Linked DNA regions of Homo sapiens. The protein of the gene in region 1 purifies or fractionates together with the protein of each later gene. This does not show direct contact. Each region holds a gene or a part of one and is shown in the gene's direction. Other genes may lie near its edges.

Region 1 (3,500 bases):
CATAGGAGGGAACACTGCCTGTGCCCGATGGTTTTCTTCATAGAGACCTTGGTCAGGTCTAGACAGACAAAGCAATTGAACTTATTTGGCTTCAAATGAAAAATACCAAGTTAGAAATTATAGGAAAAGCTGTCTTCAGTTTACTAGCTTTCTTCATATTGGCTTGCTTTATTGCTTTAGGTTTTGTTTCTTTTTGGTGGTGGTGGTGGGTGGTTTTTTTTTGTTTTTTGTTTTTTTTTTTGATGTTTTAGTTCCTGTAAAATGATACTGGCTTTTTTTTTTTTTAAGTATTGTACCTTATTTTGAATGGTTACTTTATAAATCACGAGGCTATAATTGTTTGTTTTTTGTTAATTTACTATGTGTGTTTTAAGTTAGGATTGTCTAGGCAAATTTATTAGAAGGTTAGGCATAATTTTTGTTCCCAGAGAGTTTTGAAAGAATTTGGTTCCTTGGGGGAAACTAGTCAAATGGTCTTTGTTCTAGGATAGCTGAGTTTGAAGGATTAGTTGTTTATCTGTTTAAGTGGATTTGTAGAGAACTATAATGTAATTGGAGAGTTAATTTTATTTTTAGAGCCTACATTTTGATCATACATCCTTTCGTTGTCAGTGTAAATGAAAGGATCTCTCTGATTCCAGTTTAAGTGTAGAGCCTTGACAGGTCTCCATTTCCCGTCAACTCTGTAAGACTGATAACTGCCCTACAATTTTGGCTCGTCTGACTTCCTCACAGCTTCCAGAGAGAAATCATTGCCATATATGCCCCCAGTAAGCTCTAGGACTTCTTGAGTCTATTGAGGCAGTAGGGAGAAAAGCTAATTAATAGGAGAAAAATTTCCCCTCAGTACATATCTTAGTGGTCTTAGGGAAATTATAATTTCTTAAATTGGCTTCTTAATTTCCAAGAATAATGTACTCGTTTTCATTCATCAATCTTCTAAAGAAACCTGTGGTTTAATTTTTAAAGGTGTGTTTTATGTAAACCCTAACAGCTCTGCATTTCTGGAAGCTACTACTACTGGGACTTAAATGTGTACAACCATAGTGTGTTTAAAATGTGTAAAACTAACAGAACTTTGAAGAGCTATCAAAACTGGTTAGGAAATACTAGTATGCAGTTTTCTCAACAGATGCTATTTTATGTTTACTATTTTAAAAATATTTTAATAATGTGTAAAAGCTTTTATCTCCAAAGGATTTGTTTTTAGCAGATGGTAGGTGCTTAATTATTTCTTGGATGTGAATCTTTTATTGAAGCAAACACATTTACATCTCAAATATGTAGGGTGATCAGGGACTGTTCCCTGTTATGTGTTAGAATAAATGTTAAATACTTGTATTCTGTGAGACTTGTTTCCCCCAATTTCATGATAGATTATCTATGAGACTTTTTAATATTGAAAATATAATTATTTTATGGTAAAATTAATTTTTATGTTGACTGGCAAATTAACGAGTGGAATACTATTTGAAATATTACTCTGTGAATGTTACTGGCTTTTAGGCTGGGTTTAAAATTGAAGTGGCTCGTATTTACTACCTGTTCTGTAATGTGCAGATGTTGGGAGGAGCCTTATTTTTTTCTTGACATTGAAAGAATAATTTTTTGTATTACCTACAAATTTACTTAACATGGAGGAACAGTATTTGTTGTTGAAATTGTTTTCTACACTAAACTGGAAGTGGATGGTATTTAACTAAAAATCTTGCAATTGCTATTAAACAATGAGTATTTTGCATTATATAAAATAAACAGTATTTTACTTTGTATAATATAAAATGAGTATTTTACTTTATATAAAATACTCTGTTTAATAGCAATTGCAATATTTTTAATAGCAATTGCAAGAGATAAGAATTAACCATATTATGATGCAAACAAATTGTTTTTTTGTTATTGTGAACTTCCATGCTAAGTGCTACATTAAAAATCAAATGAAGGTGACCCAGAGTAAGTTAATTAGATTTTAATTCATATCTTTAAGGATAAAAGAAGTTTTTATTAACCATTGGTAACTAGGATGCTTTTTACTTAAATCAGAGTCAGGAAAAGCAGTTGGTCTTATATTTCACGAGATAACATGTTTTCACTTGATATGAAATCAGTTCTTTTTTTCCCTCATGAACAGCTCATAATTGGATTTTATTTTTGGACAGAAAAACTTTTTTTATTGTTAGGTGAATTTTACAGTTTTATTGGAAATCTCGTTTGGTTATTTACCAAAACTATTTAAGCTTTTTGGGATGTTGGACATTTTCAATGCAACAGGTCAACAAAGAATTCTTTTTTGATGTGTTGCATTAAGATGCCATCAAAACAGACACTACGTCTTTTAATGAGTAAATAATTAACCTATAATATGTGTAAACTACTTGTTCATCATTTTTAATTAAAATATTTTGTATTTCAAAACTGTTTCAAATATGAAATCTGGGTTTAGAAAGGATCTGCATGCAGGTCAACGTGATAAGCAATGATCTATGTAGCTTTATTTTTACGACAATTGGACAGAGGTAATTTCTTAGCACCTCTTAGGCTGCTTAATTTAGAGTTAATCCAAAGGAAGAAACATTCCTTCAGAAGACTAGGACATATCAGATATTAATTATTAAAAATAGGCTGGGCACGGTGGCTCATACCTGTAATTTCACTACTTTGGGAGGCCGAGGCAGGCGGATCATTTGAGGTCAGGAGTTTGAGACCAGTCTGGCCAACATGGTGAAACCCCATTTCTACTAAAAATTACAAAAATTAGCCGGGCGTGGTGGCAGGTGCCTGCAATCCTACCTACTCAGGAGGGCGAGGCAGGAGAATTGCTTGAACCCAGGAGGCGGAGGTTGCAGTGAGCCGAGATTGTGCCACTGTACTTCAGCCTGGGCGATAGAGTGAGACTCTGTCTCAAAAAAAAAAAAAAAGTAAATAAGTAAATTAAAAAAAAAAATTCTTGGTCCTGAATTTTAATATTGAGAAAGATGATATTGTGTAATCACACCTGTGTAATAGCCAACTTGGTTGCAGCATTTAAGGTCATGCCTGTCTAGCATACGATAGTGGATTGAGTTAGTTTTGGTTTGTGGTACTTACAACTTTAAAGTTCACTTGGCCTGGCATGGTGGCTCACGCTTGTAATCCCAGCACTTTGGGAGGCTGAGGCAGGTGGATCACCTGAGCTCAGGAGTTCAAGACCAGCCTGGCCAACATGGTGAAACCCCATCTCTGCTACAAAAATTAGCTGGGCTTGGTGGCGGGTGCCTGTAATCCCAGCTACTTGGGAGGCTGAGGCAGGAGAATTGCTTGGACCTGGGAGGCGGAGGTTGCAGTGAGCTGAGATCGTGCCAGTGCACTTCAGCCTGGGCAACGAGCGAAACTGCATCTCTAAAAAAATAAATAAAGTTTATGTAATTATGCTGTCTCATGTTTTATCTGAGACCAAAAATGTTTAAATTTTTTCATTTATGTTGACTTTTGTTTTCATAGGGTATTTAAAATAATTTCCA
Region 2 (3,500 bases), on another chromosome or scaffold:
TTTGAGCTAAGAAGTACCTAAGAAGTTATTTAGTCTCAACTCTCATCCAATGAAGAATCCCTCTTTGGCAGATGGGTCATTTAATCTCTGATTAAATATCTTAGAAACAGGGTGTTAGTGGCTTTAAATTTCTTTCATGGGTTAAACCAAAATCCAGTCTTTATCAGGAATGTCCTATAGGCTTTTCCTCTTGCTATCTTCTTGACGTCATGTCTTATCACTCTCCCCTTTCTTATTTCAGCCACCCTAACCTATTTGGTTTTCCTCAGACATAAACTTAACTATTACACAAGGCCTTTGTACATACTTTCATTGTCTTGAATGTTCTTCCCCTCTAATAACCATGTTGCTTCCTCCTTTACTTCATTCTGGTCTCTGCTCAAATATCATACCAGAGAGGTCTTTCTTGATCACTCTAAAATAGCTTACTCCTCCCTATACTCTTTGTTCCCTAAGCCCTGCTTTATTCCTGTTCGTGACGCTTATTACTATATGATATTCCATATATTTGCTTTTTTGTTTACTGTGTACCCCCCCACCCAACCCCACATACAGGTGTAGGTACATGCACATGCACTAGAATTTACTGTCCATGAGAGAAAGGACTACTTACTGCTGAATCTCTAGCACCTAGTACAGTCTGTGGCACATACGTAGGGCGCACTCAATAAATATTTGTTTGCTGAATGCATCCCCATATCTTCTTAATGTTGATTCTTTTGCTGTTAGTGAAGCTTTACAGAACAAATAATTTTTGCTTATGTAACACTCCTTCAAAAGTTTAAAGAAATTGTTCAGGCATGGTGGCTTATGCCTGTAATCCTAGCACTTTGGGAGGCTGAAGCAGGCAGATCACTTGAGTCCAGGGGTTCAAGACCAACCTGGGCAACCCCGTCTCTACTAAAAATACAAAAATTAGCACGGCATGGTGGCACGCACCTGTAGTTCCAGATGCTTGTGGGGCTGAGGTGAGAAGACTGCTTGAGCCCAGAAGGTTGAGGGTGCAGTGAGCTGAGATCGTGCCACTGCATTCCAACCTGGGTGACAGAGCGAGACCCTGTCTTAAAAAAAAAAAAAAAAGGTTAAAGAAATTTATGTTGTATTTACTTTTTATTTTTTTTTTGAGACAGGGTCTAGTTCTGTCACCCAGGCTGGAGTGCAGTGGTGCAATCTCGGCTCACTGCAACCTCTGCCTCCTGGGCTCCTGGGCTCAAGCCTCCCAAGTAGCTGGGACTGTAGGAGTAGGCCACCATGCCTGGCTAATTATTATTATTATTATTTTTGTAGCAATGGTTATTTCACCATGTTGCCCAGGCTGGTCTCAAACTCCTGGGCTCAAGTGACCCTCCCGCCTCGGTTTCCTAAAGTGCTGAGATTACAGGTGTGAGCCACCACACCCAGCCAAGGTTTTCGTTCCAAGCTGACTTTGACTCCTTCAACATTTCCTTAATTCTTCACTACCTTGTTGTCTTTCTTGGCTCTGGTTTGCTTAATTCTTAATTCTCTCTTAAAGCATAATGGTTAGAATTAAATAGAGTCTTACAGCAATACATAGGATAGTACTTTCAATTATCTATAAACACTATTCTTCTAATAATGTAGTTTCAAAAAAATTTTTTAGCTGCAATGTTATACTTTTGGCTCATAAGAAATGCACAGTTAAGTCTTGAAGGATTATAGAGTTAGAATTTCATTGTACTGCTGCTGATTTATTTCCAAACATAATGTGGTTTTTATTCCTTAAGGGGTTTGTGACCATGACTCTGGAAAGCCTAGAGGAAATACAGGATGTCAGCTGTGCTTGGAAAGAACTTAACAGAAAGCTGAGTAGTAATGCAGTGTCTCAGATTACCAGAATGTGCCTCCTGAAAGGAAATATGGTAGGCTTTTCCAGACAATTAAAAAGCTTTTTAATCAACTACCCCAAATGTTTACAAACACTAGCAAATTTTGTTCTTTCTCTTTGAAGCCTAATGGCATGAATAATGCTGTTTTTTCTCTGTTAGTTTGTTTCCAGTTATAAATTTGGGGCATTATATATGTAACCCATTCCTCCAGAGCTGTAAGTCATTCTGTTCAGTTTGACTATCTAATACCCAAATTATCTAAGTTTCTGCCACATACTGTATGTGGTTGTGTACATGTGTTTATTCTCTTTTTATTTTTTAAATTTTATTTATTTACGACTTTATAGTGATGAGGTCTCACTATTTGCCCAGGCTGGTCTTGAACTCTGGGGCTCAAGTGATCCTCCTACCTTGGACTCCCAAAGTACTGGGATTATAGGTGTGAGCCACTGCACCTGGCCTTTTTGTATTATTATTATTATTATTTTTATTTTTGAGACAGAGTTTCACTCTTGTCGCCCAGGCTAGAGTGCAATGGCACAATCTCGGCTCACTGCAACCTATGCCTCCTGGGTTCAAGCAGTTCTCCTGCCTCAGCCTCCTGAGTAGCTGAGATTACAGGTGCCCGCCACTATGCCCAGCTAATTTTTGTATTTTTAGTAGAGATGGGGTTTCAGCATGTTGGCCAGGCTGGTCTCGCACTCCTGACCTCAGGTGATCCTCCCGCTTCTGCCTCCCAAAGTGCTGGGATTACAGGCGTGAGCCACCATACCCTGTCCATGTTATTATTATTGTGATTATTATTTGGTAAAGATGGGATTTTGCCATGTTGCCCAGGCTGGTCTTGAACTCCTGAGCTCAAGGGATTCACCTGCCTCAGCCTCCCAAAGTGCTGGGATTACAGGCTTGAGCCACTGCACCTGGCATGTGTGTTTATTTTGTAAGACTAAGTAGCTTATGATTGCAGTAGTTAAACAGCTCTATAATTTTGAGGACATGCAGTTTGGTTTTTAAATGGCCTGCTCTTTGTTGTTAATGAATTAATGATATGAATTAAATAAATACTTTAATACATTTATATAGCAAAATTAAAACTGTAATCTTGTGACTGATTTCTTCTAATGGTTTTGAAAAATGATGTTATGTTATTAATTTAACTTTACTGCATAGGTTCATTCTAGCTTGGAATTTATTAACTAGATTGTTTATTGCAAATAATCATCTCTCTCAAAGTTTAATATTACTTGCCTTGTAAAAGGATGTGGGGCAAGTATGAGACAAATATATACTTTCAGGAAAAAAATGTAGAGGGGAGGGAAAAAATAGCAAGATCCATAGGCCAAACTAGTTGCTATACTTGAGTATTAAATTAACTTTCAGCTTATTGACAACTAAGACCATAGAAGAAACATCTTGGGTTATATAATTCTTATTATCTAACAAACATTGCAGCTTTTTTCTTTTTTTTTTGAGACAGGGTCTCACCCTGTCACCCAGGCTGGAGTGCAGTGGCGTGATCTTAGCTCACTGCCACCTCCGCCTCCCAGGCCCAAGCGATCCTCCCACCTCAGCCTCCTGAGTAGCTGGGACTACAGTCATGCATCACCACACCTGGATAATTTTTGCATTTTTTTTGTAGAGATGGAGTTTTCC
Region 3 (3,500 bases), on another chromosome or scaffold:
TTGTGGATAGCAGTAAGTTGTTCTTCAGACAGCCTGGTGCTTGCTCAAAAGGCTCAAGAACAGAGCAACCATGGGGACGGGGATAGAGGCTGGTGCCTGGAACTCAACAATACAGACTTCCCCTCATGATAGCCATGTGGCTTCTGCTGGTACAGAGTGCCCAGTTTGCTGCCAGTAGTAACTGGTCCTGATTCCCCAAATGGCAACACATCTTCAGGACCAGCCAGCCACCTTGTGTCGGGTTATTATGGTAGAACTTTTTGTCATGGAGGAGTCAGTTGGAATATCAATTTTTTTCCTGTACTTGGATTTGTCTTCCCTGTGTGTAATACCACCATCTCTAAGATCCACTGAGAATCTTTGATAGAGCTGTGATATTCCCCACAAGGTTGCCTCTGACCTTCCCAGAAAGAATTAGAGCAATGGGCTAATGCTTGTGGTTTTGACTGTTTATGTTTGCCGATTTCCTCATTGGAAGACTATTGGTGGGATGTAGACCAAGTCTGCCTTCTATCGAAAAAGCCAAAAAGGCTAAATACCTTCTCAACCTCCCTTGCAGCTAGGGTGCGGGCAGTGACCTAAGTTCGGTCAATCTAAGATGCTCTCTGAGGACTTTGAATAAAAGCCAGTATCACAAAGAAGAATGGTTGAGAGAATCACTCTCCAGCAACAACCAGTTTCCCAAGGAGCAGCAGCAGCAGCAGGGCCCAGTGTCTGTGGTGATGGTAGTGCAGAATCCAGCATTATCAGGCAACAGAAGCGATACAGTCCCCAGCCCCAGCCCCTGCTCTTAACATACTCTGGCATTTAAGGCAGCTGGTGTTATAGACCAGTGGTTCTCAGACCTTTTAGTCTCAGGACCCCTTTATCCTTTTACAAATTATCAAAATGGATTTGATAGGGATTTAAAAAACGTTATTGAGAGTGCTGATGATGTTTTGTTTATGTGGGTTTTATCTATTTATATTTATTGCATAAAAATTAAAACTAAGTTTTGAAAATACCTATTTAAACATAAATTTAAGGCAGGGCGTGGTGGCTCACACCTGTAATTCCAGCACTTTGGGAGGCCGAGGTGGGCAGATCACATGAGCCCAGGAGTTTGAGACCAGCCTGGCCAACGTAGCGAAACCCCGTCTCTACTAAAAATACAAAAATTAGCCAGATGTGGTGGTGCATGCCTGTAATCAAGCTACTTTGGAGGCTGAGGCAGGAGAATCGCTTGCACCTGGGAGGTGGAGGCTGCAGTGAGCTGAGACTGCGCCACTGCACTCCAGCCTGGGTGACACAGTGAGACCCTGCCTCCAAAAAATACCCAACAACAACAAAACAACAATAACAAAAATATATATATGTGTGTGTGTGTGTGTGTGTGTGTATATTTGATGGTTTGGTTACTTAAAAAATTGTTACATATATGTAAATTTATTATGTTGTAACAATTTTTTAAGGAATCAAACTATATTTTCTTTTTTTGAGATAGAGTCTCGCTTTGTTGCCCAGGCTGGAGTGCAGTGGTACAATCTCGGCTCACTGCAACCTCTGCCTCCTGGGTTCAAGCGATTGTCCTGCCTCAGTCCCCCGAATAGCTGGGACTATAGGCCCGTGTGTATTTTTTAAAACAACGAAAATTTAATGAGAATTGCATTGCTTTACATTTTTTTCATGTCTCTCTAAAGTCTGGCTTAATCAAGTGGTGGCTTACACCTGTAATCCCAGTGCTTTGTTAGGACGAGGTGGGAGGATCATTTGAGGCCAGGAGCTCACAACCACCTTGGGCAACATAGGGAAACTTCATCTTGTTAAAAAAAAAAACAAAAAATTATCTGGGTGGGATGGTGTGCACCCTTGTAATCACAGTTACTTGGGAGGCTGAGGTGGGAGGATCACTTGAGCCTAGGAGGTCAAGGCTGCAGTGAGCCATGATCGTGCCACTGGACTCCAGCCTGGGGGGTATAAGCATTCAGACCGTAGCGTCTGGTTCATCTTATATTTTTTCTTTTTAAGATAAGCAAGTATATATGTGTGTTCTTTTTTTTTTTTTTTTTTGAGACGGAGTCTTGCTCTGTTGCCCAGGCTAAAGTGCAGTGGTGCGATCTCGGCTCACTGCCAGCTCCGTCTCCCAGGTTCACACTATTCTCCTGCCTCAGCCTCCCGAGTAGCTGGGACTACAGGCACCCGCCATCACGCCTGGCTAATTTTTTGTATTTTTAGTAGAGACAGGGTTTCACCATTAGCCAGGATGGTCTCGATCTCCTGACCTCGTGATCCACCCGCCTCGGCCTCCCAAAGTGCTGGGATTACAGGCGTGAGCCACTGTGCCCGGCCTATATGTGTGTTCTTATTTTCCATTCTTAGTTTTGCACTTGCTTCATTATCTTTGTGTCTACTGGAAATCACTCTACTATCAGTTCATGGAGATCTTCCTTATTCGTTATAGCTCCATAATGCTCAATTTTATGTATCCACTGTACTTTCTAATTTCCTATGTGTGGATATTTAGGCAATTTCCAGTATTTTGCAATTGTGCATATTGCTCTAATGAATAACCTTGCATGTGTGTATTTTTATATTGTTGCTGGTGTATCTTCAGGGTAGATTCCTCAAAATGGGATTTCTGGGTCAAGGTGTAAATACCTATGTGGGGTTGTACCATTTTGCATTCCCACTAATGATGTATGTGAGTACTTGTTTCCCTTAGCTTTGCAGCCTGAACTTTTGAATTTTTGCTAAGCTTATGGGTGAGAAGTGGGATCTTAGTATAGTTTTAATTTGCATTTAAATTGCATTATGGGTGAAGTTAAACATCTTTTCATGTGTTTAAAGGCCATATTTATATCTTTTTGTGATTTGTCTGTATTTATCTTTTGCTCATTTTTCTTGTTTTTTCCTTTTCTTTTTTTTTTTCCTCTAGAGACTGGGGTCTCCCTGTGTTACCCAGGCTGTAATGCAGTGGTTTGATCATAGGTCACTGCAGCCTTGAATTCCTGGGCTCAAGTGATCCTCCCTCCTCAGCCTCCAGAATTTTCTGAGCAGCTGAGACCACAGGCGTGCAACATCATACCCAGCTAATTAAAAGAAAATTTTTTTTTAGAGATGAGATCTCCCTAGGAGGCTGTCCTCCCACTCACTTTGAGATTCTTTTGGGGGTTCTCTGATTTGATTTTACATTTAACTGTATATGCTACCATCTGTAGCACCTCGTAGATCAAGTTTCAGATGATTTTCCATTTCTATCTGGGAGTTCCCCATTATCTCTTAATCAGATGTGATGCTCCCTCTGGTGGACAATGGAGTAAAAAGCATACAAATATTTTTCAGAAAGGCAACTTATTTTTTAGCCACTAAAACACTGTCTCTGAGTGGTCTCCTTCATGAACCCCCTTTCCAAACTGTTCTTAGCCTCTGACATTTGCCATTAACTCTTATTTTGAATTAGACCAAAAAAGGGCAAACAAGTTAAATTTTGTCATAAATATCTATATAAAACTCACTAATGA
Region 4 (3,500 bases), on another chromosome or scaffold:
AGCTGGGATTACAGGCATGCGCCACCATGCCCAGCTAATTTTGTATTTTTAGTAGAGACGGGGTTTCTCCATGTTGGTCAGGCTGGTCTTGAACTCCTGACCTCAGGTGATCCGCCCGCCTTGGCCTCCCAGAGTGCTAGGATTACAGGTGTGAGCCACCATGCCCGGCTCAAGAGCTTTTTAAAAACACTACTTGCTGGGCACGGTGGCTCACGCCTGTAATCCCAACACTTTAGGAGGCTGAAGTGGAAAGATTGCTTGAGCACAGGAGTTCAAGACCAGCCTAGACAACACAGTTGAGACCCTGTCTTTACGAAAAAAAAAAAAAAAAAAAAAAAAAAAAAGAAATTACCTAGGCATGGTGGTGCCTCCCAGCTGCTTGGGAGGCTGAGGTGGGAGGATTGCTTGATCCAAGGAGGTTGAGGCTGCAGTGAGCCATGATCATGCCACTGCTCTCCAGCCTGGGCAGCAGAGTGATACCTGCCTTAAACACACAAACACAACTCAAGTGAGACTTTGCTTCCCAGAGGCCTGAACTCTATTTCAGATGAATATTTTCTGTTACTTCCCCCCAGGAGCGAATCCGTTTAGCTCGACAGATTGAGAAATCTGAGTATCGGAACTTCCAGGCTTGCCTGCACAACTCTTGGATTGAGCAGGCAGCAGCTGCCCTGGAGATTGAGCTGGAAGAAGACATGTATAAGGGTAAGCCCTTGGGCGGGATGGGAATTGAGGAAGTTGAAATCTCTCTTTAACTTTTGCTTTGTTGGAACCATCTCTACTACTGTGGGTCTTGTCAAAATCAGCAAGGCGTCCTTCCCCCTCTTTGCTAACAGGCCCTGGTCCCAGGTGAGCCTACTGCCCTCGGTCAGTCTTTGTTTCCTCTGTCTCTGTCTTGTGCCCTCAGCTGCCTCCTCTTACATGGACAGGCAGTGGAGTACAGTGAGGAAGGGAGCAGGCTCTCTGGCCAGGCTGCCTGTGTTAGAATGCCGGCTCATTGCCTTAACTATGTGACTGAGTCAAGTTATTTAACCTCTGTTGTGTTCTCAGCTTTCTCCTCCATAAAATGGAAGTAGTCAACTACCTACTTCATGGGATTGTTGTGAAGACTGATTGAGTTAAAAAATGTTAAGTGCTTATAGCATTGCCTGGCAAATAGAAAGTATTACATTTTAAGTTATTTGTCATTATGGTTCCTACTACACCTGCCTTCCAAGCTGACAAAGCACTTCCATGCCATTATCTCATTTGATCTTCTCCACTTTCATGACATGAACACAGCAGGAAGTACTCTTCTTTTACATATGGAAACTAGATACCACAGCAGAGGCAGTTTGTGCAGGGAAACAGCTCTGTCACAAGGCATTTCCAGAGCTGCTACTCTATATGTGACCACAGGCTGAGGCTTCAGGGATGAATCTGCCCGGTCCCTGCTTGAGAAAACTCCTGGTCTAAAAAGTGGTAGAACCAAATCTAGAACTCCATGCTCCTTCCACACCACCAAGTATGCAGCTCAGCAGAGATGTTGACACCTCGGTGCCCAAGTCAGCAAATTCAGAGGCAGACTTAACTGCTGTCTGCTCAGCATGGAAGCCAGGAGCCAAACCAGTGGGCTTGATGACAGTGAGCTATTTCTGGTGGCTCAGGGTTGGGGCTTGGGCCGAAGATGTGGAGGCCCTGGCTTCCCTTCCTGAGGACAGACTGAGGTGGAACCTTTTGGCTCTGCCAGCTTCTCCATGTGCAGTCACAGCACTGGTGGCAAGGCATAGGAGAGCTGGGCTACAAAGAAGCATTCAGTGTCTCCTGGGGCGGCAGGGAGGTGGGGGTTGTAATTGTGAACTCACCAAACCCCAGGTGGGCAGTAAGTGGGTGGGTCATAGGAAGAAAAGTGATCTTCAGTCAGGAGACTTGGGTTCTGGGCTCTGTCTGATGACTGGCTCTGTGATGTGAGCCAGGTGACTTCTCTAACCCTGAGTTGCCTCATCTGTAAAGATAATTCCAGTCTTGGAGGATTTTTATGGAGTAAAAAAGGACAGAGCGGTCCTGTGTATCCCCTGCAAATGGTTAGACGTTATCCATTTACAGCCCCTGCCAAGCCACCACTAGCTTCTTCAGAGAACTTTTGAACCCTGCCTCCCTAAAGTAGTTCTAAAACATTTTTCACTGTGTTACCCATCAAGGGAAACAAAATGTTTCTACAAACCATAGTAAATAGGATCGTTTTTGTATTGTGTTTCAAGGAGGAAAAGCTGACCAGCAAGAAGAACGTCGGAGACAAAAGCAGATGAAGGTTCTGAAGAAGGAGCTGCGCCACCTGCTGTCCCAGCCACTGTTTACGGAGAGCCAGAAAACCAAGTATCCCACTCAGTCTGGCAAGCCGCCCCTGCTTGTGTCTGCCCCAAGTAAGAGCGAGTCTGCTTTGAGCTGTCTCTCCAAGCAGAAGAAGAAGAAGACAAAGAAGCCGAAGGAGCCACAGCCGGAACAGCCACAGCCAAGTACAAGTGCAAATTAACTGGTCAAGTGTGTCAGTGACTGCACATTGGTTTCTGTTCTCTGGCTATTTGCAAAACCTCTCCCACCCTTGTGTTTCACTCCACCACCAACCCCAGGTAAAAAAGTCTCCCTCTCTTCCACTCACACCCATAGCGGGAGAGACCTCATGCAGATTTGCATTGTTTTGGAGTAAGAATTCAATGCAGCAGCTTAATTTTTCTGTATTGCAGTGTTTATAGGCTTCTTGTGTGTTAAACTTGATTTCATAAATTAAAAACAATGGTCAGAGCCATTGTGTCATCCTGATTTTTTTTTTTTTTTTTTAGATAGAAGATGGGGGTGGTGGTGTAGTTTGTTTCATTATTAACTTAGTGATTCTCCTGGGCCAGCACAGTGCTAAGCCCTTGAAAGGACAGGAATAGTGTCAGGCCTCTGGCTGCAGGCCAAGATTGGACAGTGTGAATGGAGCAAGAGGCTGGAATGTTCAAGAGGTGCATGTTCCTGCTTTACCCAGAGCAGCACCCTAATAGCTCCTTAGCTCTCTCCACTCTCCTGGGTATTGTCTGAGCCACCGTGGGAGGTGGGCAGGGATGAGGTTGCTGTCTTCAGGCTTCCCTCACATCACAGAGCCAACAGTAACAGTCGCTAGGTCTGGCGTGTGAAGCCCTCAGGATCTAGCCCCAGCCTTGTCTCCACTCCCTCCTGTTTGACAGAGCAGGCTCCTGCCCACGGTTCCATGCACCCCTTCTCTTGTCCTGAGCCTTTGTGCAGAATAGGCTTTTCCCTCGGTCTGGATTGCCTTTTGGCCTTCTCCATCCTGGAGCACTGCCATGGGTCCTCTAGTCCTGAGCCTCTAAGGGGAAGCAGTGCTTCTCCTGGGGCTCCCTTAGTGTCCCGTGCTTACCCTCTTCATAGCACTTGCCATGCTGTGTTCCCTTAGCTGAGCTCCTTGGGAGAAGAGGAACTCAAGGCTTGGTCAGCCTGGTATAAATATGTGCTCAGGGAAC
Region 5 (3,500 bases), on another chromosome or scaffold:
GGGCTCCGCCTGCTCTCTGAGTTGGAGCTGTGGCCGTCGCATACTCACTCTGGCTGTGAGTTGTTAGATGGACTGGAAGATGTGCACACTTGCTGCAGACTGCGCTGTGCGGGGGTGGGTTTCTTGTTTTTCTTTAAAGCACGATTTGAGGGGCTTTGGAAGCCACAGAGGGTCCTGTTGTGCTGCATGGGTTGGCCAGGAGTGTGGGGACGAAGTGGGAGCAGGGAGGTGAAGGATTGTTCCTTCCTGTCCTGACCCCTTCTGGCCCCCTGAGCTGGAAGGGGGCAGGGTGAGTGGCTCCCTCCTCTCCCCACCAGCCATGGGCGGGCATAGCCTCACGTCTGGGCCCCCCTTCCAGAGGCGGGCACCAAGGAGGAGCCCGTGACAGCTGATGTCATCAACCCTATGGCCTTGCGACAGCGAGAGGAGCTGCGGGAGAAGCTGGCGGCTGCCAAGGAGAAGCGCCTGCTGAACCAAAAGCTGGGGTGAGGGGTCCTGGCCAGGGCAGGCAAGGGAAGGGCTGGGGAGGCCACCATCCTTGGCTGCCTCTTGAGTGGGGTGGGGAGCAGGAGCTGGGCTCCTTGAGCATCACTTTTTCCCCTCTTCAGGAAGATAAAGACCCTAGGAGAGGATGACCCCTGGCTGGACGACACTGCAGCCTGGATCGAGAGGAGCCGGCAGCTGCAGAAGGAGAAGGACCTGGCAGAGAAGAGGGTGAGCACCTGGGCAGCATGGGGTGGTCGCCTAGTGCTTCTGGTGGCCTGACGGCACTGAGGCGGGGGCCAACCCCAGAGAGGTGAGACGGGGCTTGGAGAAGGGAAGGGCCGTGGTCGGTAGCATCTACTTTGGATTCTCAGCAGCTTTCCTGCAAGGCCTGCCCTTTTTGCACTCCGCTTGGTAGAGCCCTGAGTGTTTTCTGGTGATGCTGAGTGGCCTGAAGTCCTAGGTCACCCCTCCCTGTCCCGTAGGCCAAGTTACTGGAGGAGATGGACCAAGAGTTTGGTGTCAGCACTCTGGTGGAGGAGGAGTTCGGGCAGAGGCGGCAGGTGAGGCTGCAGCAGGGGTGGTACAGGGGACACTGGTGGCCTTGCTACCGGAATCCCGAGGTTGGGTGCGTGGAGGGAGGTTCCTGACTCGCCGATTCTTCCCTTAGGACCTGTACAGTGCCCGGGACCTGCAGGGCCTCACCGTGGAGCATGCCATTGATTCCTTCCGAGAAGGGGAGACAATGATTCTTACCCTCAAGGACAAAGGTAATGCGAGCTGGGTGCCCTGGGTGGGGGCACAGCCTCTGCTGAGTTGCGGACAAGTGTGAATGGCCACTGCTCTGTGCTGCCCCCAGGCGTGCTGCAGGAGGAGGAGGACGTGCTGGTGAACGTGAACCTGGTGGATAAGGAGCGGGCAGAGAAAAATGTGGAGCTGCGGAAGAAGAAGCCTGACTACCTGCCCTATGCCGAGGACGAGAGCGTGGACGACCTGGCGCAGGCACGGCCTGGGCAGGCTGGGTGGCGGGGGCTGAGGTGGAGAATGTCGGGAATGGGGGCTCTGAGGAGGTGGTGGCTCAGTGGCTTTTCAGGAGCCAGCCTGGGTCCCAACCTGTACCTCTTGCCTTGCAGCAAAAACCTCGCTCTATCCTGTCCAAGTATGACGAAGAGCTTGAAGGGGAGCGGCCACATTCCTTCCGCTTGGAGCAGGGCGGCACGGCTGATGGCCTGCGGGAGCGGGAGCTGGAGGAGATCCGGGCCAAGCTGCGGCTGCAGGCTCAGTCCCTGAGCACAGTGGGGCCCCGGCTGGCCTCCGAATACCTCACGCCTGAGGAGATGGTGAGCCCTCCCGTGCCTTATACTCGGGGTCAAGATTCTCCCTCCCTCTGGGGCTCCTGCCCTGCCCGCAGGCACTGAGAAGACAGGGCGAGTATTTGTGTTCACAAAGCGCTTGGCCTCGCGGGTGAGCACTAAATGGCAACCGGGGGAGGCACCAGGTGTGGATGGGTCAGGGCTGCTGAGCCAGATGGGCCCCAGTCTGTTTCGGCTCTGCCATGCTGCCAGCTCGTGCCTTGGATAAACCATTTAACTGTGAGCCTGGGGCACCCCATCTGGAATGGCAGTGACAGGAGCCGCCTCCTGAGGTTGCTGTGAGGATGAGTGACAGCGTGGGTGAGGGGTGACTGGAGAGGTGTGCGTGGATTCTGTCCACAGGGTGACTGTGTGAACGTGAGGTAGACAGCTGGCGCGGTAGGCGTCTTCCTCAGTGGGTAAGAGCAGGACTCTGGAGCCAGACTGCCCAGCTCTCCCACCTAGGAGCTGGGCAACCTTGGGGAAGGTACTTAACCTCCCTGTGCCCCAGTTTCCCTAGCTCACCAGTGGAATTGAGATAGTAACCACCCCACATGTTGCTCATGTGTGGGAAGCGCTCAGGACGCTGGCTAGCACAGAGGAACACCAAAGAAGTGTTCACCCTCGAGGGCTTGTGGCGACCTGCCTTTCTGTGGCCCCCGCTCCATGTCTCGCCCCTCTTCCCTTAAGGTGACCTTTAAAAAGACCAAGCGGAGGGTGAAGAAAATCCGCAAGAAGGAGAAGGAGGTAGTAGTGCGGGCAGATGACTTGCTGCCTCTCGGGGACCAGACTCAGGATGGGGACTTTGGTTCCAGGTGGGCTTGGACACGGTGGTGGGGCGAGATGGCTGGGCTGGGGTGGCCTGGGGACCGGTGCTCACCAGAGAGGCCTCCTTCCCTCAGACTGCGGGGACGGGGTCGCCGCCGAGTGTCCGAAGTGGAGGAGGAGAAGGAGCCTGTGCCTCAGCCCCTGCCGTCGGACGACACCCGAGTGGAGAACATGGACATCAGTGATGAGGGTGAGGGCCCGGCCAGGGGGTGGGAGGGGCAGGGACAGGAGCCGCGGGTTGGAGGAGATGGTCTGAGCAGGCATCCCCTGTGTTTCCCCCAGAGGAAGGTGGAGCTCCACCGCCGGGGTCCCCGCAGGTGCTGGAGGAGGACGAGGCGGAGCTGGAGCTGCAGAAGCAGCTGGAGAAGGGACGCCGGCTGCGACAGTTACAGCAGCTACAGCAGCTGCGAGACAGTGGCGAGAAGGTGAGGCTGGGCATGGGCAGGGTGACTGCGTCAGCAGTCACCTGTCCTCACGAGCACCTGTGTCATAGGCGACAGCCACATTCCTGTCTGAAGCCTCTTTTCCATTTGTTTTTTGTTTTCTGGGTTTGTTTTTTTTTTTTTTTTTTGAGACAGAGTTTCGCTCTTTCGCCCAGGCTGGAATGCAGTGGCGCAGCCTCAGCTCACTGCAACCTCCGCCTCCCAGGCTCAAGTGATTCTTATTCCTCAGCCTCCTGAGTAGCTGGGATTACAGGCGCACGCCACCAGACCCGGCTAATTTTTATATTTTTAGTAGAGACGGGGTTTCACTATGTTGGCCAGGCTGGTCTCCAACTCCTGACCTCATGATCTGCCTGCCTCTGCCTCCGAAAATGCTAAAATTACAGGTGTGTGC
Region 6 (3,500 bases), on another chromosome or scaffold:
TGGATAGAAGAGATAAGCTTACTTGTCTCAGATGACTTTAGTTTGAAGAAGTAATATCTTGGAATTTATTTTTCCAGAAGTATAAACCGTGGGCGACACCACAGCGAAAGATCACAGAGGACTCAAGGCCCGTCACTACCAGCAACTCCAGTCTTTGTACCTGTTCCACCACCTCCTTTGTATCCGCCTCCTCCCCATACACTTCCTCTCCCTCCGGGTGTTCCTCCTCCACAGTTTTCTCCTCAGTTTCCTCCTGGCCAGCCACCACCCGCTGGGTATAGTGTCCCTCCTCCAGGGTTTCCTCCAGCTCCTGCCAATTTATCAACACCTTGGGTATCATCAGGAGTGCAGACAGCTCATTCAAATACCATCCCAACAACACAAGCACCACCTTTGTCCAGGGAAGAATTCTATAGAGAGCAGCGACGACTAAAAGAAGAGTATGTATTCTAATTTGAAATTATTATACACTTTTTTCATTTTCTGATAATAACATTAAATAGGTGTCTGGAAACGTTTTCCAGTGTTTCCAGTTAGTATGAGAAATTCACCTAAAATTTAAACCAAAGCCATACAAGCAACTTCTCAGGGATTCCTAGTTTATAGTTTTAAAGTGGAAAACTAATGGCAATTTCATTCATTTCATTCATGATCTAATTACATTTGTCTTGTTAGTTTTCTTAAATGGTTTTTGTTAACTTTCACTCTTTAACTTTATTTTACTAGGGAAAAGAAAAAGTCCAAGCTAGATGAGTTTACAAATGATTTTGCTAAGGAATTGATGGAATACAAAAAGATTCAAAAGGAGCGTAGGCGCTCATTTTCCAGGTTAGTGTTTTGCAAGCCTTCACAACAGAATTACAAACGGGACTTTGAATATCCAGGGATTAGCTATGGATATAAAGAACATTGCACTTAGGAATTTTTCTGATTCGGTCTAGGTGTATAGAAGTGAAGATGTAGCTTATTTCCCAATATCTGTTCATTGAAATAATGTCTCAGTGTAAATTTTATTGTGTAGAACTAACAGTTGTGGGGATTAAATTGCCCTTGTCCCTTAAAGTTATTCATAGTATCAAATAATTGGGAAATGTTTTTGGAAGGAAAGAAATAGGGGAATAGCCAAAAAACAGTTCCCAGGACCCTTTTACCATAAGGCTACAGCTTCTTGCTGGAACATTAACCTGCGTAATTATGAAGTAGTAGTAGAATACAGATCGCTTTATTGATAGAAAAAGTGAATTATAAAAATTCCCTGGAAGTTTGTTTAAAAGACTTTATTTTTTAGCCTTACACTTGAAATGTGGTTTCTTTTAAAACTAGGCTGTTGGCCAGTATAGGACAAAAAACAGACTCCTACTTCAATATTCAGATAGGAAGTGAAATTTAAAATTAATTGACATTTTGTTTAATGTTAGTTAGCTCATATAACTCACGGTACATTAATGCACTTCACTCTAATTGTTAAGACTTCACTTTTGTTTTGTAACAAGTGATTGCTCCGATTTGTGTACTTTATTCCATTCCAGTAGAGGTCACTGTGCCTCTTTAATCATCTAAGATGAAATTTGATATAAAGATAGATGAAACCGTGAGGAAAGAATGCTAGAATCTGAGAGTCTGTGTTTTATTTTGTATGTATTTCTCAACTATCAACTATTGTTTTGTTTTGTTTTTAGGTCTAAATCTCCCTATAGTGGTTCTTCGTATTCAAGAAGTTCATATACTTATTCTAAATCAAGATCTGGTTCAACACGTTCACGCTCTTATTCTCGATCATTCAGCCGCTCACATTCTCGTTCCTATTCACGGTCACCTCCATACCCCAGAAGAGGCAGAGGCAAGAGCCGCAATTACCGTTCACGGTCTAGATCTCATGGATATCATCGATCTAGGTCAAGGTCACCCCCTTACAGACGCTATCATTCACGATCAAGATCTCCTCAAGCGTTTAGGGGACAGTCTCCTAATAAACGTAATGTACCTCAAGGGGAAACAGAACGTGAATATTTTAATAGATACAGAGAAGTTCCACCACCATATGACATGAAAGCATATTATGGGAGAAGTGTTGACTTTAGAGACCCATTTGAAAAAGAACGCTACCGAGAATGGGAGAGAAAATATAGAGAGTGGTATGAAAAATATTATAAAGGTTATGCTGCTGGAGCACAGCCTAGACCCTCAGCAAATAGAGAGAACTTTTCTCCAGAGAGATTTTTGCCACTTAACATCAGGAATTCTCCCTTCACAAGAGGCCGCAGAGAAGACTATGTTGGTGGGCAAAGTCATAGAAGTCGAAACATAGGTAGCAACTATCCAGAAAAGCTTTCAGCAAGAGATGGTCACAATCAGAAGGATAATACAAAGTCAAAAGAGAAGGAGAGTGAAAACGCTCCAGGAGATGGTAAAGGAAATAAGCATAAGAAACACAGAAAAAGAAGAAAAGGGGAGGAAAGTGAGGGTTTTCTGAACCCAGAGTTATTAGAGACTTCTAGGAAATCAAGAGAACCTACAGGTGTTGAAGAAAATAAAACAGACTCATTGTTTGTTCTCCCAAGTAGAGATGATGCCACACCTGTTAGAGATGAACCAATGGATGCAGAATCAATCACTTTTAAATCAGTGTCTGAAAAAGACAAGAGAGAAAGGGATAAACCAAAAGCAAAGGGTGATAAAACCAAACGGAAGAATGATGGATCTGCTGTGTCCAAAAAAGAAAATATTGTAAAACCTGCTAAAGGACCCCAAGAAAAAGTAGATGGAGAACGTGAGAGATCTCCTCGATCTGAACCTCCAATTAAAAAAGCCAAAGAGGAGACTCCGAAGACTGACAATACTAAATCATCATCTTCCTCTCAGAAGGATGAAAAAATCACTGGAACCCCCAGAAAAGCTCACTCTAAATCAGCAAAAGAACACCAAGAAACAAAACCAGTCAAAGAGGAAAAAGTGAAGAAGGACTATTCCAAAGATGTCAAATCAGAAAAGCTAACAACTAAGGAAGAAAAGGCCAAGAAGCCTAATGAGAAAAACAAACCACTTGATAATAAGGGAGAAAAAAGAAAAAGAAAAACTGAAGAAAAAGGCGTAGATAAAGATTTTGAGTCTTCTTCAATGAAAATCTCGAAACTAGAAGTGACTGAAATAGTGAAACCATCACCAAAGCGCAAAATGGAACCTGATACTGAAAAAATGGATAGGACCCCTGAAAAGGACAAAATTTCTTTAAGTGCGCCAGCCAAAAAAATCAAACTCAACAGAGAAACTGGGAAGAAAATTGGAAGTACAGAAAATATATCAAACACAAAAGAACCCTCTGAAAAATTGGAGTCAACATCTAGCAAAGTTAAACAAGAAAAAGTCAAAGGAAAGGTCAGACGAAAAGTGACTGGAACTGAAGGATCCAGCTCAACTCTGGTGGATTACACCAGGTAGCTGAGTGTAGGGGGTGGGTGTGGAACTTTGTTGGGAGAAGGATTTTCTTCAGTTTTATCCAT
Region 7 (3,500 bases), on another chromosome or scaffold:
AACAGGTGGGTGGGGTCCCCTCACCCCACAAAGGCAGGGGAAGTGGGGCAGGGGCTGGCTGCCCGAGAGCTGCGACTGCACCTGGGCCCGCCTCACCTGAGCAGCTACTGGAGGTTGGACCCCTCAGCACCTCTAGAAGCCAGAGGTCAGCCTGGCCCTGGGGCTTTGCCACTCCCTTGCAGTAGCAGGCGGCCTGCCCCACAGGGCCGAGGCCCAGCGCGTGGAGTGGTCTGTGCCGGGGCTGGTGTGCAGGTTTGCGTTCCCAGCGTCCCACCCAAGCAGGTGTGTGAGCCGGGAACTCTGTTGGGAGTCGGCCACTGGGATCCCAGGTGAGGCCGGCTCTGTTGGGGAAGTCGATGTGGAGTCGGCGTGGCCGCTGGGATCCCAGGTGGCTGTAGGTGGCTGTGAGTGTCTGTGGTGTGTTGAGTGGGAAGCCGTGGGTGTTGCCCAGACCTCAGCTGGGGCGTTCTCCTGGTGCCCACGTGCCCCCACCTAGAACGAGACCCCCCTCCGTGAAATGCTGGCGCTTTGGGCACTGCCTGCGGTCCTCACTGAACGAGTCCACTGTTGGTACCGTGACTTTGAGAATGCCTCTCAGTGCCGTCTGTATTTTCTTCACAGATGAAATTGTGGCTCTAAAGCGGCTGAAGATGGAGAAGGAGAAGGAGGGCTTCCCGATCACGTCGCTGAGGGAGATCAACACCATCCTCAAGGCCCAGCATCCCAACATCGTCACCGTTAGAGTGAGCATGGCCCCACCACGCCTGGCCCCGGGTGGAAGGCTTTTCTGACAGGGCCCCGTGCTGTCCTGGGGCCGGGTGCTTCCTACACTCTCCTGCACTTAGTGGAGCCCTTCACAGACCACACAGAAGCAAGCATTTGCCTCCCGGGTGGCACCGGAGGTCCTTACTGTCCCTCAGCAGCTGCACCCGGGTGCAGGGGTGGGTGGGGGCCTGGAGGTGCCCAGCACCCACAGAGCCGTGCCCTGCAGGAGATTGTGGTGGGCAGCAACATGGACAAGATCTACATCGTGATGAACTATGTGGAGCACGACCTCAAGAGCCTGATGGAGACCATGAAACAGCCCTTCCTGCCAGGTACAGCCGCGCCCCAGGGGCCTGTCTGCGTACAAGTGGGGGCAGGGTCCTGGTCACCCCCGCGGTGACAGTGCTGCAGGGAGGGCCAGCTGCATCCACAGGGAAAGCCCTGAGAAGCCTCTGTTGCTGCCGAGGCGAGTGGGCCACCCTGAGTGCCCTGGGCTGGGGGCAGCCAGGTCCACATGGGAGCTTCCCTCCCTCCCAGGGGAGGTGAAGACCCTGATGATCCAGCTGCTGCGTGGGGTGAAACACCTGCACGACAACTGGATCCTGCACCGTGACCTCAAGACGTCCAACCTGCTGCTGAGCCACGCCGGCATCCTCAAGGTGAGCCCCCCTCCGAGTGGCCCATCCCAGGGAGACCTGCCGGGGCCCACTCACAGCCGCCCATCTGTCGTTGCAGGTGGGTGACTTCGGGCTGGCGCGGGAGTACGGATCCCCTCTGAAGGCCTACACCCCGGTCGTGGTGACCCTGTGGTACCGCGCCCCAGAGCTGCTGCTTGGTGCCAAGGTGAGTCCTGGGCGTCTGAGTGCCTCCCCTGTCCCCCACGCAGCCTCCCACAGCTTCGCGGGCACTGGCCCTCCTGAACACCTCTCCTGACCTCTTAGGAATACTCCACGGCCGTGGACATGTGGTCAGTGGGTTGCATCTTCGGGGAGCTGCTGACTCAGAAGCCTCTGTTCCCCGGGAAGTCAGAAATCGATCAGATCAACAAGGTGTTCAAGGTGGGTCTGGCCCTGCTGCAGGTGCGCTGTGGGGTTGTGGAGGAGTTGCAGGAATGGGGCTGCGGGGCGCACAGGTGCTGGGTTGAGATGGGGACCAGGGCCACTGAGAGCCCTCCTGGTGGCTTGTCTTCTCTGACGGGACACAGGTGCCAACACTGTGGGCCACTTGGTGTGGCTGTTGAAGCACCTCTGTCTTTCAGGATCTGGGGACCCCTAGTGAGAAAATCTGGCCCGGCTACAGCGAGCTCCCAGCAGTCAAGAAGATGACCTTCAGCGAGCACCCCTACAACAACCTCCGCAAGCGCTTCGGGGCTCTGCTCTCAGACCAGGGCTTCGACCTCATGAACAAGTGAGCCCAGTGCAGCCGGGTGGCGGGAGGTCCCGAGCCATAGCGGTGACTTCCCAGTCCCAGGCCTACCTGCTGGCTCACCACGTTCCAGAACTGCTCTGGTGCCTGGCGTCCCATGCCCTGAGCCCCGTCCCAACACAGCCCATCTTTGGGGGACCCAGTGGAGCACACGAGCACCTCCTGGGCCTCTGGCCCTCTCCCCCCAGGTTCCTGACCTACTTCCCCGGGAGGAGGATCAGCGCTGAGGACGGCCTCAAGCATGAGTATTTCCGCGAGACCCCCCTCCCCATCGACCCCTCCATGTTCCCCACGTGGCCCGCCAAGAGCGAGCAGCAGCGTGTGAAGCGGGGCACCAGCCCGAGGCCCCCTGAGGGAGGCCTGGGCTACAGCCAGCTGGTGAGGGGCCTGGCGGGTGGGGCGTGCCCACAGGTGGGGCTGGCTTGGGCAGGGTTCTCACGGTAGCCGACTCGTCCCAGGGTGACGACGACCTGAAGGAGACGGGCTTCCACCTTACCACCACGAACCAGGGGGCCTCTGCCGCGGGCCCCGGCTTCAGCCTCAAGTTCTGAAGGTCAGAGTGGACCCCGTCATGGGGAGAACTCAGCCGGGACCACAGGCGTGGCTACTGCGGCTGGAGCTGCGATGAGACTCGGAACTCCTCGTCTTACTTTGTGCTCCATGTTTTGTTTTTGTATTTTGGTTTGTAAATTTGTAGAATTAAATCATTTTCCTTGTTGTGGAGGAAAGAGCTGTGTTTTCTCCGTGACTTGCCCAGGGCGGAGAGGGTGGACATCTTCGGGTGCCCACGTGGGGCAGCACAAACCTCCACACACCCTCTCCCACTCTCGACACGCACGGGGCTGGCTGGGCCGTGATTTGGAAAGGAACTGGTGGGAGCCGGGTGGATTGTTTAATCTTCGGAGCTGGAGACCTGTTTCTGTGTTGGGATGAGCGATGCCCTCTTGCCCCAACCCACTCGTCCAGACCAGCCCTGTCCACACAGGCCCCCGGCCCCCAACCCCCAGCCCCAGCTGTGCCAGCAGACTCGACAGGTTTTTATACAAGGTTGTTGAGTTTTAAAATGTATTAAAATATTCTTCGAGGAAAGCTCCCCGTGTCGTCCTTTGAGTGACCCGGGACCATGTGTGGGAGGGGAGTCGCAGACCACCGGGCTCTAGGGGAAGAGGGTGGGGTGGGCGGCTGTGGCCTCTGACCCCATGTGGGCCAGTGTCTTCCCCAGGCAGGAGGGGAGCTCCTACCTCCTGGGGGGCCTCCACTCTGGCAAGGTGGTCCCCCACCCTGTGCCAGTCCTCCCAGCCCCCACCCAC

Evidence for each region.
Region 2: the proteins of KMT2E (region 1) and DDX50 purify together in Homo sapiens (affinity purification with mass spectrometry, with the first as the bait; one study listed by BioGRID). This does not show direct contact.
Region 3: the proteins of KMT2E (region 1) and SMYD3 purify together in Homo sapiens (affinity purification with mass spectrometry, with the first as the bait; one study listed by BioGRID). This does not show direct contact.
Region 4: the proteins of KMT2E (region 1) and DDX24 purify together in Homo sapiens (affinity purification with mass spectrometry, with the first as the bait; one study listed by BioGRID). This does not show direct contact.
Region 5: the proteins of KMT2E (region 1) and SART1 purify together in Homo sapiens (affinity purification with mass spectrometry, with the first as the bait; one study listed by BioGRID). This does not show direct contact.
Region 6: the proteins of KMT2E (region 1) and RBBP6 purify together in Homo sapiens (affinity purification with mass spectrometry, with the first as the bait; one study listed by BioGRID). This does not show direct contact.
Region 7: the proteins of KMT2E (region 1) and CDK11B purify together in Homo sapiens (affinity purification with mass spectrometry, with the first as the bait; one study listed by BioGRID). This does not show direct contact.

What each region holds. Positions count from the first base shown.
Region 1 is NC_000007.14:105,017,205-105,020,704, forward strand, and holds part of KMT2E (inactive histone-lysine N-methyltransferase 2E), read left to right. Parts: intron 1-3,500. UniProt on the Homo sapiens protein: Associates with chromatin regions downstream of transcriptional start sites of active genes and thus regulates gene transcription. Chromatin interaction is mediated via the binding to tri-methylated histone H3 at 'Lys-4' (H3K4me3).
Region 2 is NC_000010.11:68,939,315-68,942,814, forward strand, and holds part of DDX50 (ATP-dependent RNA helicase DDX50), read left to right. Parts: intron 1-1,745; coding exon 1,746-1,880; intron 1,881-3,500. UniProt on the Homo sapiens protein: ATP-dependent RNA helicase that may play a role in various aspects of RNA metabolism including pre-mRNA splicing or ribosomal RNA production.
Region 3 is NC_000001.11:246,497,280-246,500,779, reverse strand, and holds part of SMYD3 (histone-lysine N-methyltransferase SMYD3), read left to right. Parts: intron 1-3,500. UniProt on the Homo sapiens protein: Histone methyltransferase. Specifically methylates 'Lys-4' of histone H3, inducing di- and tri-methylation, but not monomethylation. Also methylates 'Lys-5' of histone H4.
Region 4 is NC_000014.9:94,050,203-94,053,702, reverse strand, and holds part of DDX24 (ATP-dependent RNA helicase DDX24), read left to right. Parts: intron 1-575; coding exon 576-705; intron 706-2,240; coding exon 2,241-2,512; 3' UTR 2,513-3,500. UniProt on the Homo sapiens protein: ATP-dependent RNA helicase that plays a role in various aspects of RNA metabolism including pre-mRNA splicing and is thereby involved in different biological processes such as cell cycle regulation or innate immunity.
Region 5 is NC_000011.10:65,964,734-65,968,233, forward strand, and holds part of SART1 (U4/U6.U5 tri-snRNP-associated protein 1), read left to right. Parts: intron 1-358; coding exon 359-485; intron 486-608; coding exon 609-714; intron 715-968; coding exon 969-1,046; intron 1,047-1,153; coding exon 1,154-1,253; intron 1,254-1,342; coding exon 1,343-1,485; intron 1,486-1,616; coding exon 1,617-1,823; intron 1,824-2,525; coding exon 2,526-2,650; intron 2,651-2,737; coding exon 2,738-2,853; intron 2,854-2,945; coding exon 2,946-3,088; intron 3,089-3,500. UniProt on the Homo sapiens protein: Plays a role in mRNA splicing as a component of the U4/U6-U5 tri-snRNP, one of the building blocks of the spliceosome. May also bind to DNA.
Region 6 is NC_000016.10:24,567,066-24,570,565, forward strand, and holds part of RBBP6 (E3 ubiquitin-protein ligase RBBP6), read left to right. Parts: intron 1-77; coding exon 78-440; intron 441-726; coding exon 727-828; intron 829-1,679; coding exon 1,680-3,434; intron 3,435-3,500. UniProt on the Homo sapiens protein: E3 ubiquitin-protein ligase which promotes ubiquitination of YBX1, leading to its degradation by the proteasome.
Region 7 is NC_000001.11:1,635,005-1,638,504, reverse strand, and holds the end of CDK11B (cyclin-dependent kinase 11B), read left to right. Parts: coding exon 1-5; intron 6-621; coding exon 622-743; intron 744-991; coding exon 992-1,097; intron 1,098-1,302; coding exon 1,303-1,424; intron 1,425-1,500; coding exon 1,501-1,608; intron 1,609-1,651; coding exon of another isoform or gene 1,652-1,706; coding exon 1,707-1,823; intron 1,824-2,023; coding exon 2,024-2,172; intron 2,173-2,378; coding exon 2,379-2,568; intron 2,569-2,648; coding exon 2,649-2,741; 3' UTR 2,742-3,280; downstream 3,281-3,500. UniProt on the Homo sapiens protein: Plays multiple roles in cell cycle progression, cytokinesis and apoptosis. Involved in pre-mRNA splicing in a kinase activity-dependent manner. Isoform 7 may act as a negative regulator of normal cell cycle progression.